Linked DNA regions of Homo sapiens: region 2 is linked to region 1. Evidence: fine-mapped expression QTL. A gene starts in region 1. The other region holds a variant in brackets. All regions are shown on one strand. Distances are from middle to middle.

Evidence for each region. PIP is the estimated chance that this variant, and not a neighbour inherited with it, causes the effect.
Region 2: its variant is fine-mapped to the expression of OGT in whole blood (TOPMed, PIP 0.99).

What each region holds. Positions count from the first base shown.
Region 1 is chrX:71,530,588-71,535,964 of GRCh38, reverse strand. OGT (O-linked N-acetylglucosamine (GlcNAc) transferase) reads right to left here and starts at 2,861. Exons shown (of 22, transcript NM_181672.3): 1 at 2,629-2,861. The coding sequence starts at 2,665. RefSeq lists enhancers at 2,287-2,945, 2,771-3,110, 2,611-3,810.
Region 2 is chrX:71,557,694-71,563,048 of GRCh38, reverse strand. OGT (O-linked N-acetylglucosamine (GlcNAc) transferase) reads right to left here. Exons shown (of 22, transcript NM_181672.3): 13 at 3,624-3,782; 14 at 3,372-3,461; 15 at 1,149-1,274; 16 at 32-202. Among named protein-coding and RNA genes, the nearest start is that of GCNA, 18 kb to the left of the region's middle. The variant C/T (reference allele first, on the strand shown) is at 2,467.

The DNA.
Region 1 (5,377 bases):
CTTTCCCAAACTAGAAAGGAATATTTACTTCCATATGAGATTACATTTTATGACCAAAAATACTTTGTACTTTTAAATTATAAATCATAGGTAGCATCTAAGGATTCACTGAACATTATTCCTTATACCTTAGTTAACATACAGAAACAAAATATTAAACGTGTGATTTGCAAGGTCACAAAGACTTAATAATATCAGAATAACATATTGGGAAACGTAATATTTTGTGCCATATTTCAGGTTGGATTTGTTGAGGTGGAGTACTGGTAACAATCTATCAATCTTAACCTCAGTGAGGACACCAGATGTGTTAATTCTTTAAATTATATCAATTTTTGTATATTTCAGAATTTAATTCTTTAAAAGGACAAGTAGAAACGAGCCTAAGGGAAAAACCAAAAAGTCAAAGTGCTATTTTTAAAACAGCTGATAAACAAGATGTTTGTCATTTGACAACAGCCAAAATAGTTAAAGGGGTCATCAAACATTTTAAATAAAGACCCAAGATTACACTGCTCCTCTACCATCCCAAACTCAAAAGGAGACTAAATTGGCTAAATCCCACCCACGTTGGTTTAGCACTAACATTTTCCAAACAGCTCTGGTATTGACTAAAGGATTAAGACATTGCAAACAAGCCTATATAAGCCAGGCAGTTACCTGCAACTGCAATGGTCAAAACGTTGGGAGGGAGGGAGGATGGACGCTAAAATATATTTGATAAAGCGCAACATAATGAATAAATAAAAGCACTTCGCTGCAAGTGACTTAATCCAGATACATAAAGATCTTTAAAGGATATAGCTAAAGCCCAGAGAGGGAAAAAAAAAAAAAAAAAACTGCTTGTCACAACTGTAAATACTTAAACTGGGAATTCGACCGTAGCACTTCACTAGCTGGTTGAAATGGGAAACCATGGACAAATTATTTAATTCTACCAAGGTTAAGGTGACTAGTTCAAATTTGAGCCCAGCTCCCCAATCATCAGAGCTGATGAGCGTTCCGGATACTGAGGAAAGCAAAGTAAATTTCCTGACAGAATGCACAGCTGACCACCAACACAAAGAGCATTGAGACTTGCATCCACATCTGGGAGAGGTTATATCTTTAATAGAAACTAAAATTACATTTTAGCTAAGTCTCTAGAACTTCCTAGCTCCTTGTTTTCACACATTACTTTGTCACTTTTCAATGCCGCTTATCTGCTATTTTAACACTTGAAACGACAGCTTTCTCAAATAAATAACACATTAAAAAGGGCAAGCTAGTACAGAATCCAGTACAGAATCTTAAACCTTTGAAAATCACGGTGGAGACGTGGGGAGAGGAGCACGGACTAATTATTAATCCCACTCCCTACAATTACGGATAAGACACTATTGACGATTCACCTACTACTTACAGCACAACTTCCAGGAACAGTAGCTAAAACCCTCCACACATCTCAACTGAGAAACAACCAAAAAATAACCTCGCGGGAAACCTCAGAAGCGCAGCCCAATTCCCCACCCCCTTCCGCCCAAATCGCCTCAATATGGAAAGGCAGCTGAAGGACACTCCTACAATTTGGTTGTTTTCGTATTTTCAGTACCAAATGCTCGCGACTGAAGTGTCTAAAAGGGCAACCGCCTTGTACTTGTGCAGCTACACTCCAGTTGCTTTACAAACTCTTCAAGCAGGGATGGAAACTTAAAAGAATATTACACCCTGTGAATAAAGAGATACTGGGCTGAAGAATGGGGATGGCAGACCCAGAGGCGGCGGCGGAGGAATACATCGAGAAAGTAACACAAAGCGAGAATTGGGCGGGCAGGGTGGTCAACGCCAAAGCAGCAGCATCGGGGTGGTTTCTCCCCCAAGGATAGGAAGTGAACAGGGCTGGCAACCTCGCGAAGGGAAGGGTGTGGTTCCCCGCGGACAGGGTGGGAAATCCAGGCTGAGGGCAGCGGTGGAATTGGGCGATGGCAAAGGAAACCCCTGGAAATTTCCAATCTAAACCGGGACCGCTCAACCGAAAGAACACCAGAAAGGCACTGCCTAGCAGGGTGCTGCTCAATGTCCCCTCTTCTCGAGGTGACTTGTGGCACCATCGACGAGCTTTTGATCGTCCTCGGGTGATGCAAAGTGAGGATATGATTACATCGGAACGGCACCCCCGCCCTAGATTGGCAGAGAAGGACCAAATCTGGCTAAGGGGAAAAGACTGGGGGGGGAGATGAAGGAGGAGATGGAGGGGAAAAAGGAGAGGCGATGAGCTGGAATTAGGGGAGAAAACCGCTGCAAAGGAGTGAAAGGGCAGGGATTCCAATGCAGTCCATTCCACGACATTCTAAGCGCGCACGTGTGATAAAAGCGCCTGGAGAGAGTGGAATGCTAGAACATTTACGAAATAAAAACAAAGCAAGAAAGGCAGCAAAAAGCAAGCAAGGGAGGAGGAGGAAATGTTCGGGAAGCGGACAACAGCGGAAAACCCGATGTGATCAGATGCCAGTAGACCACGAAAAGCTTAGCAATGTCACTGATGTAATGGGGATGGTTCGAGGGAAGGGAGGGAAGGAGTGATACAAGGTAGAGGACGGCGCGAGACCCCAAGGGGGCATCTGCCAAGGTAGAACGGGACACCGGTACCTGTGCTGTCGGCCACGTTGCCCACGGAAGACGCCATCTGGAGCTTCTCGAGGGAGAGCAAAAAAGAGGTAATTGGTCCTGCTGCCGCCACTACCAGCAAGAACGTATTTGGAGGTAGTAGTACAAGGGCAGCAGCCGTAGCAATGCTCTGGAGGGCTTGAGCGGCGGCAGCAGTTACAGGCTTCAAACCCTGGGAACTCTAATTGACCATCTACCTAGTACGGTCTTGAAATGGCGGCGACGGCTCCTCGGCCGAAACAACATGGGCCGGAACTACTTTCTGTTACAATCAAGTGCCCGCGCGGAGGTAGCCGGTAACCAGCGCCGCCAACAAAATGACTTCAAGCTGCAAAGTCGAGATTCCATGTAGTCCTCCGCGCAGCGCCCATTGCGACAAACACCACGGTGGAGACCGCGCATGCGAGCAGCCCTGTCAACCCGACTCGTGGTTAGGGCACTCTCTGGGGCGGAAGCGGCCAAGTTTCTTAAGAGTGTAGCGGAAGGGTAAAAACAAACACACACGGGACGGATACGTTTTTGCCACCGCGATTAAGAAGAGTGTTTGTTACTTAGCAGGTGGTGTCGTTTTAAACATAAATGCCAAAGGCGTCTAAAAAAGTTTATCAACTGTATTCGTACAAAAACGGATGGTTACGACTCTCACGGATCAATTCTGAGCCAGTCAATTCAGAAGATTGCCTCTCAAAGACAGCTGCTCAAAACGAGGAGCGAGAGGGTTCCGATTTGAGCCCGTCTTCATTGTGACTCGGCCATCGATTTCAGCACTTCGATGAAAAAGACTGAAGCTTTCACAGGGCCAGTTGAATGCAGACACCTTCAATGTTGGCCGTATAGCCTGAAATTTCAAAATCGTTTTGGTATTCAGAATACTCCTGCCCACGGTGATAGGGCAAATGTTTAATAACTCAGGGACATGCTGGGCGTTTGCACTCCGAAGGCAGCCATAAAAATGTTAAAGGTGATTCACGTTCGTCAAAATCCATGACTCTCCTCGAGTTGTGACTTCATTTCCACCAGCTAGCTCTGCACATTGTCACAGTCGGCGATTCCACTGAGCTCAAAGCAGATCAACAATGATAAATGAATTCACTTGCCATCTGCCTAAACCACACGTCTAGATTGAGTCATGAATTGCCTCTACTTCCTTGAACAAATCGGTTCTTACGATCTTCCTGCAGTTTCAAGTCTACTGTTCAGACATTTTGTCACATTGGTATTTATACTTCACCTCTTGTTCTAGAAACGACTTAAGGTAGCTTGCCACATCAGCAAGAAAGTATTACAAGCCACTGGAGGCTACAAGTTGGATCTCTGAGAGCCTTTTTATTTCAAAAAGTCCTTGATCTAAGAAAGCAGGTCAATGAATTTCTTCAAAAAGTTTTTGCTACCTAGCCCCTTCACTACATTTTTTAAAACTAAGTCCTCAAATTCTGCTTAAATTTCTTCAAAACAGTCAACAAACAATTAATTATGGAAATGGCACAGAGAAAATTCATAATGCTAATTTCTTCCATCCCATAATCAAGAGTCACATCATGCAGTGAAAAAGACAAAAATCACTACACAAACTCTCCTGAAAATTGAGCACCAACCTCTTGTAATTTGATTTAACTGGTAAAACCTCCCCCCCGCACACACACACCTACTACAAGTTCCCTATCTGTAATGAGTAAACTCAGCTTTTCAACTTTTAGAAGAGACTTCTCAGATTCCACTGGCAGATGTTTAGGCCTTGCTGATGAGCGGGTGCTAGCTAATTAACAAAAACTCTTTTTGTTGTTAAATGCAGGTCATGTTCCTAATTCTTCAGCCAATAAGTAACATTTACTAGAGTCTCTATGTGCAAGGCACTGTGGGGGGCACAAAAATGAACAGAAATCCTCGCCCTCAAGGAATCTGAAGCCTAGTTAGGTAGACACAAAAAGCTACTAGAGAGCAATACAGAAGACTATTTAGATGATAAAATATATTACTCTCTATGAATATCTAGGGAGGAAACAGGTAAGGTTGGAGGGGGTGAGAAAGAAGCCTTGATCTAGACATTGAAGGAAGTGCTTTTGTATGTTTTTTATTGTTGTTCACATTGATTTCTGGGTTTTTTTTATGTGCAATTTTAAATTTAGAACCAATTATAATTAAATCAGCTGGGTCTTCAACCCCAATCCCAAACTTTGTCACCCAGTAACACCACTGATGTTGCATTACTTTTTTTGCTGCTGTGTAACAAAGTATCACAAATACAGCTGCTCAGAACAACACACATTTCACAGCAGTAGCACCAGCGCTGGATGAGACCCGGGCTGGTGGCTGCTGTTGCACTGCTGCTGAAAAAAAATGGCTCCAAAGGTTAAATGAAGCCAAAGAAATACATAGATGTGAGAGGAGAAGCCAGCTGGACTTCCTGGGTTGGGTGGGGACTTAAAGAACTTTTCTGTCTTACAAGAGGATTGTAAAATGCACCAATCAGCACTCTGTAGCTAGGATTGTAAAACGCACCAATCAGCGCTCTGTGGCTAGCTAGAGGTTTGTAAAATGCGCCAATCAGTGCTCTGTAAAAACACACCAATCAGTGCTCTGTGGCTAGCTAGAGGTTTGTAAAATGGACCAATCAGCAGTCTGTAAAATGGACCAATCAGCGCTCTGTAAAATGGACCAATTAGCACCTTGTAAAATGGACCAATCAGCACTCTGTAAAATGGACCAATCAGCAGGACATGGGTGGGGACAA
Region 2 (5,355 bases), 27 kb before region 1:
AAATTCGTCCATAGCACTGTTTCATACCTACCTTCAGGTGAGGGAACATATTAGCATGATCACCAATAAAAAAAGTGTGGGGCATATAAGCCAATTTCTCGGAATACTGCTCAGCAACTTCAGCTGGCGAAGTTTCCTGATCAGTGATAATATAATCCATGAAAAGCGCACCACTCGTCCCAGGGTATCCCAGCCACATTGCCTTAAAAAAATCAGATCAAAAACTGATTAAGAACTTTTATCAGTACACTTACCTCTAAATTCATCAAGTCACATACATTAAATATGTACAACTTTTTGTATGTCAACTGTACCTCAATAAAGTGGTTTTTAAAAAAAGAACCTAAAGGTGCCAAAATTAAATAAGTAAATAAACAAGGAGGTCTAACTCTTTTTTAGAGACAGGATCTCACTCTGTTCCCTAGGCTGGAATACAGTGGTGCAATCGTAGATCACTACAGCCTCAAACTCCTGGGCTCAAGCAATCCTTCTGCCTCAGCCTCCAGAGTAGCCAGGATTACAGGCACTTGCCACACGCACAGCAAGGCTGACTTCTTTAGCCGAAAGCAATGAAGCAGTTCTATAAGAGAGACTCTTACTCTGTCACCTGGGCTGGAGTGCAGTGGCATAGTGATAGTTCACTGCAGCCTCAAACTCCTAAGCTTAAGCAATCCTTCCACCTTAGCCTCCCAAATAGCTGGGATCACAGAGGCACACCACCACTCTGGCTAATTTTTTAATTTTTTGTAGAGATAGGGTGTTTTGCTTTGTTGCCCAGGCAGGACTCAAACTCCTGGTTTCAAGAGATCCTCCTGCCTAAGCATCCCAAAGTGCTGGGATTACAGGCGTGAGCCACCATACCCGGCCTGTATTTCAGACTAACTTTCAAAATGCTAAAATGTTCTTCAAATTTGCAAGACAGAGTAACTGTTCATAGCCAACCATGAATTGCATGTCTCTATATACATGTACCTATAAGCACTGTGCTCTACACTCTTTTTGTCCTGTGCATTTCAACAACTTAAAAAAATTAAAAGTATGTCTGCCCTACAGTTTCAAATATCAGTTAACCAGAGGGAGGAAAAGCAGCACCTCACTGTATTCTTAGCCAAATACATGTTATAAGTGATGACTGTTAATTTGTTTACCTGAATAGGAGCTGGCCTGAGAGCAAAAAGCTCATTTCGAGCGCCCTTAGTATAGCCATTCATATTTACAAGGATATGAATTCCATCCTGATGGATGCGATCAGCTGCTTTTCCATTGCATGGAATCTACAGAATACAAAATAAGAACTCACTATGTATAATCTCAGATCAATTAGTTTTAATGACATTTAGTTTTAATGGCATTTAGTTTTAATGGCATTTAACATAATTCAGATTCCCAGATGGAAAAGAGGTAAGAACACAAATTAACTACATTAATTCGGGCACAAATATGGTTGACTGTCATTAAAATGGGCCCAAAGCATTAAAGAAACAGAACACAAAGGAAGGAGAGTTCACTTCTGGATTGAATGTATGAATAACAACATATCACAGAGAAATTGGTATTTGAAATTTGTAATCTTTTTTTTTTTTTTGGTAGGGATGGGGTCTCACTATGTTGCCCATGATGGTCTCAAGCAATCCTTCCACCTCAGCCTCCCAAAGGATTATACACGTGAGCCACAGCACCCAGCCTAGAATTGGTATTTGAAAATAGGTCTTCAAAGACGAATAGGAGTTTGAAGGAGTTTAACAGAATACAATCTCAGTAGAGAACAGTATGAATGAAGAACTAGAGTAAAGTGTGAGGGAGTTTAGAAAATGGTGAGTAGGCCGGGCATGGTGGCTCACATCTGTAATCCCAGCCCTTTGGGAGGCCGAGGCAGGTGGATCACCTGAGGTCAGGAGTTCGAGACCAGCCTGGCCAATGTGGTGAGACCCCGTCTCTACTAAAAATACAAAAATTAGCCGGGTGTGGTGGCAGGCGCCTGTAATCCCAGCTACTCGGGAGGCTGAGGCAAGAGAATCGCTTGAACCTGGGAGGCAAAGATTGCAGTGAGCCGAGATCGTGCCACTGCATTCCACCCTGGGCGACAAGAGCAAAACTCCATCTCAAAAAAAAAAAGGGTGAGTAATTCACTTCTATTTAGTATAGGGTATACAAGATGTTGAATGGTGAGTTAAAGTATTGACAAAGTTGTGGCAAACAGAGAAAGGTTACAAAAGCTATGCTGAAGAGTTTAGACTGCAATCAATCAGCAGTGAGTCCCTAAAGGTCTCAGAGGTAGAAAGAGGTATGCTTCTTGGTCACAAAGAGTCCAACTGTGTATCAAAAATGGCCAGGTATACTTTTGAAGCAACAGCTATACTGCAAAATTTGTTAGTACATACTATTTATTAAATGAGAAGTCTCAAAACCTTTCTGCTAGGACTTCAGTGATTCATATATATATACACATACACATGTATATTTATA[C/T]ATATATGCATACATATCATACCTGCATGTGTATGTACATACATACATGTGTGTACACACACATATAAAGAGTATATTATCTCTATTAGTCAAAGTGGCTAATAGAGTCTACAAAGAAAACACTGTAGCCTACATACTCAGCAAATTAATTCCCCCATAGGTTTCAATCTTAATTTATCATAAAACTTACTCTCCTAGAGGATACAACAATAGAACAAGTACAGAAATAAAGATAACCAAAGGCAAAGGCCCATGGAAACTGATGAACCATAGTTCATCTATTTTTTCTTTTTTTTTTTTTTTTTTTGAGACAGAGTCTTGCTCTTGCCAGGCTGGAGTGCAGTGGTGCGATCTCAGCTTACTGCAACCTCCGCCTCCCGGGTTCAAGCGATTCCCCTGCCTCAGCCTCCCAAGTAGCGGGGATTACAGGAATGCACCACCACACCCAGCTAATTTTTTGTATTTTAGTAGAGACGGGGTTTCACCATGTTAGTCAAGATGGTCTCATCTCCTGACCTCATGATCTGCCCGCCTCGACCTCCCAAAGTGCTGGGATTACAGGCATGAGTCACCACACCCGGCCCTATTTTCTTTAAAAGACCTATTTATTCTTCTCCCAAGTCACCATTTTGTCAATATTTATTAAGTATCTTCTGTCACAAGTGCTGGCTCAATCTCCAGAAAAGTTGTATGTCCAAGCACAAGCATAACACATTTCAGTTTCATTTGCAACCTCGGAAAAAGCCATGCTGATTAACACAAATGATCAAGGAAATAAGATCAACACAATTGCCTATATGTGGTACTACAGCATTTAATACTTATCATCAAAAATAAACTATATGCTAATAGTTTTATTTAAACTTGCTCAAAATAAAAAGTTAAAGTATGAGAGTTTCATCTACCTGAGAAAGATCAATGAAATGATTGGCTTCTGCCATCACCTTCACTCGGAAGTTTGTGCCATCGTCTGGGCTCAGGGCATAACAGAACACCTGAAAGGCAGCACATGGCATATTTAATAACATTGGCTCAAATCTTTCTGGCTCAAATCTTTCCAAAAGACACTAGGTTTCCATGCCTCATGGTGACAAGCCAACATTGTGGGTTTTTTCTTTTTTAAACAAATAGTGATTCTAGAGAAACACTAGTCTTACCTCAAATTTATCAGGATTGTGCATGCCTGGAATAGACTGCATAAGGTGAGAAGTAGGATGATTCCCAAAGTCGGAACTCACATATCCTACACGCAGCCGACCATCACTGAGCTTCAAGTCTTTTGGATGTTCATATGGTGGTTTATGAAGAACATTAATCTATCAACAGAATCCAATGCTTGTTAGTAAAATCTACATAAATTTTCATCTAGGAAAACTGACGAAAAACACACCAAACCTATACCTCACACCTGTTGAAAAAGGTCTGCCCAGAGCATTTAGTTAATATTGCCAGAGAGATGCAACCTCAGCACTTTATGTAATATGCTTCATACTTTGACCTGCTCCTGAGATCTATAAAGCATGAGCAAATCCCAGCGCTCTGGGAAGCCAAGGAGGTGGATCGCTTGAGGTCAGGAGTTCGAGACCAGCCTGGCCAACACAGTGAAATCCAATCTCTACTAAAAAAAAAAAAAAAAAAAAAATTAGCTGGGCGTGGTGGCACATGCTTGTAGTCCCAGCTACCTGGGAGGCTGAGGTGGGAGAATCGCCCAAACCTGGGAGGTGGAGGTTGCAGTAAGCCAAGGTTGTGCCACTGCACTCCAGCCTGGGCAACAGAGCAAGACCCTGTCTCAAAAAAAAAAAAAAAAAAAAAAAAAAGTACGAGCAAATCTAACACTTGTAGGTATGAAGCAGTATGGACAGAGCATGGTTTCCTCCCGCATTTTAGAAAATTCTATAGGGAAACATTTTCTAAAAACAAAATTATGGCTGGGGGCAGTGGCTCATGCCTGTAATCCCAGCACTTTGGGAGGCTGAGGCAGGTGGATCACCTGAGGTCAGGATTTCGAGACCAGCCTAGCATGGCAAAGCCCTATCTCTACTAAAAATACAAAAATTAGCCAGGCGTGGTGGCACACGCCTGTAATCCTAGCTCCTCGGGAAGCTAAGGCACGAGCATCACTTTAACCTGGGAGACAGAGGTTGCAATGAGCTGAGATGGCACCACTGCACTGCAGTCTGGATGACAGAGACACTATGTCTCAAAAAAAAAAAAAAAGTACACCTAGCACTCCAATCTATTATCCAACCTTTGATCCAATCCTTGATCAAGTACTGCTCTAATTCTCAAAGGTGAATACAAAATACCAAGCACTCCATTAAACATGATGGCTGGCCAGGCGCGGTGGCTCACACCCGTAATCCCAGCACTTTGGCCGGGCGAGGTGGGCAGATCACTTGAGCCCAGAGGTTCAAGACCAGCTTGGGCAACATAGCAAAACCCCATCTCTACAAAAAACACAAAATTAGGTGTGGTGGCATGCGCCTGTAGTCCCAGCTACTCAGGAGGCTGAGGTGGGAGGATCACCTAAGCTCGGGGAGGTCAAGGCTGCAGTAAGCCATGATCACACCGCTGCACTCCAGCCTGGGCGACAGAGCAAGACCCCGTCTCAAAAAAAAAAGAAAAAAAAGATAAAAGAAAAAAAAATTATGGCTTTCAACTTAAAGAAAAGTACCATCAGTCTATCATTAGTGTTTAAGTGAAGGAGTTAAGGATTCCGTCTTATGAAGTGCAGGGGGTTATACTCAGGACACAATGGAAGGGGTTCTGAAGTGGCCCACAAAAGTTTTATTTCTCGACTTGGGTGGTGTTCACTTTATAATCGTTCATTAAGCCACAGATTTGATTTTTACAGTTTTCTGTATTTGTGTTTTAGTTTACAACAAAAAG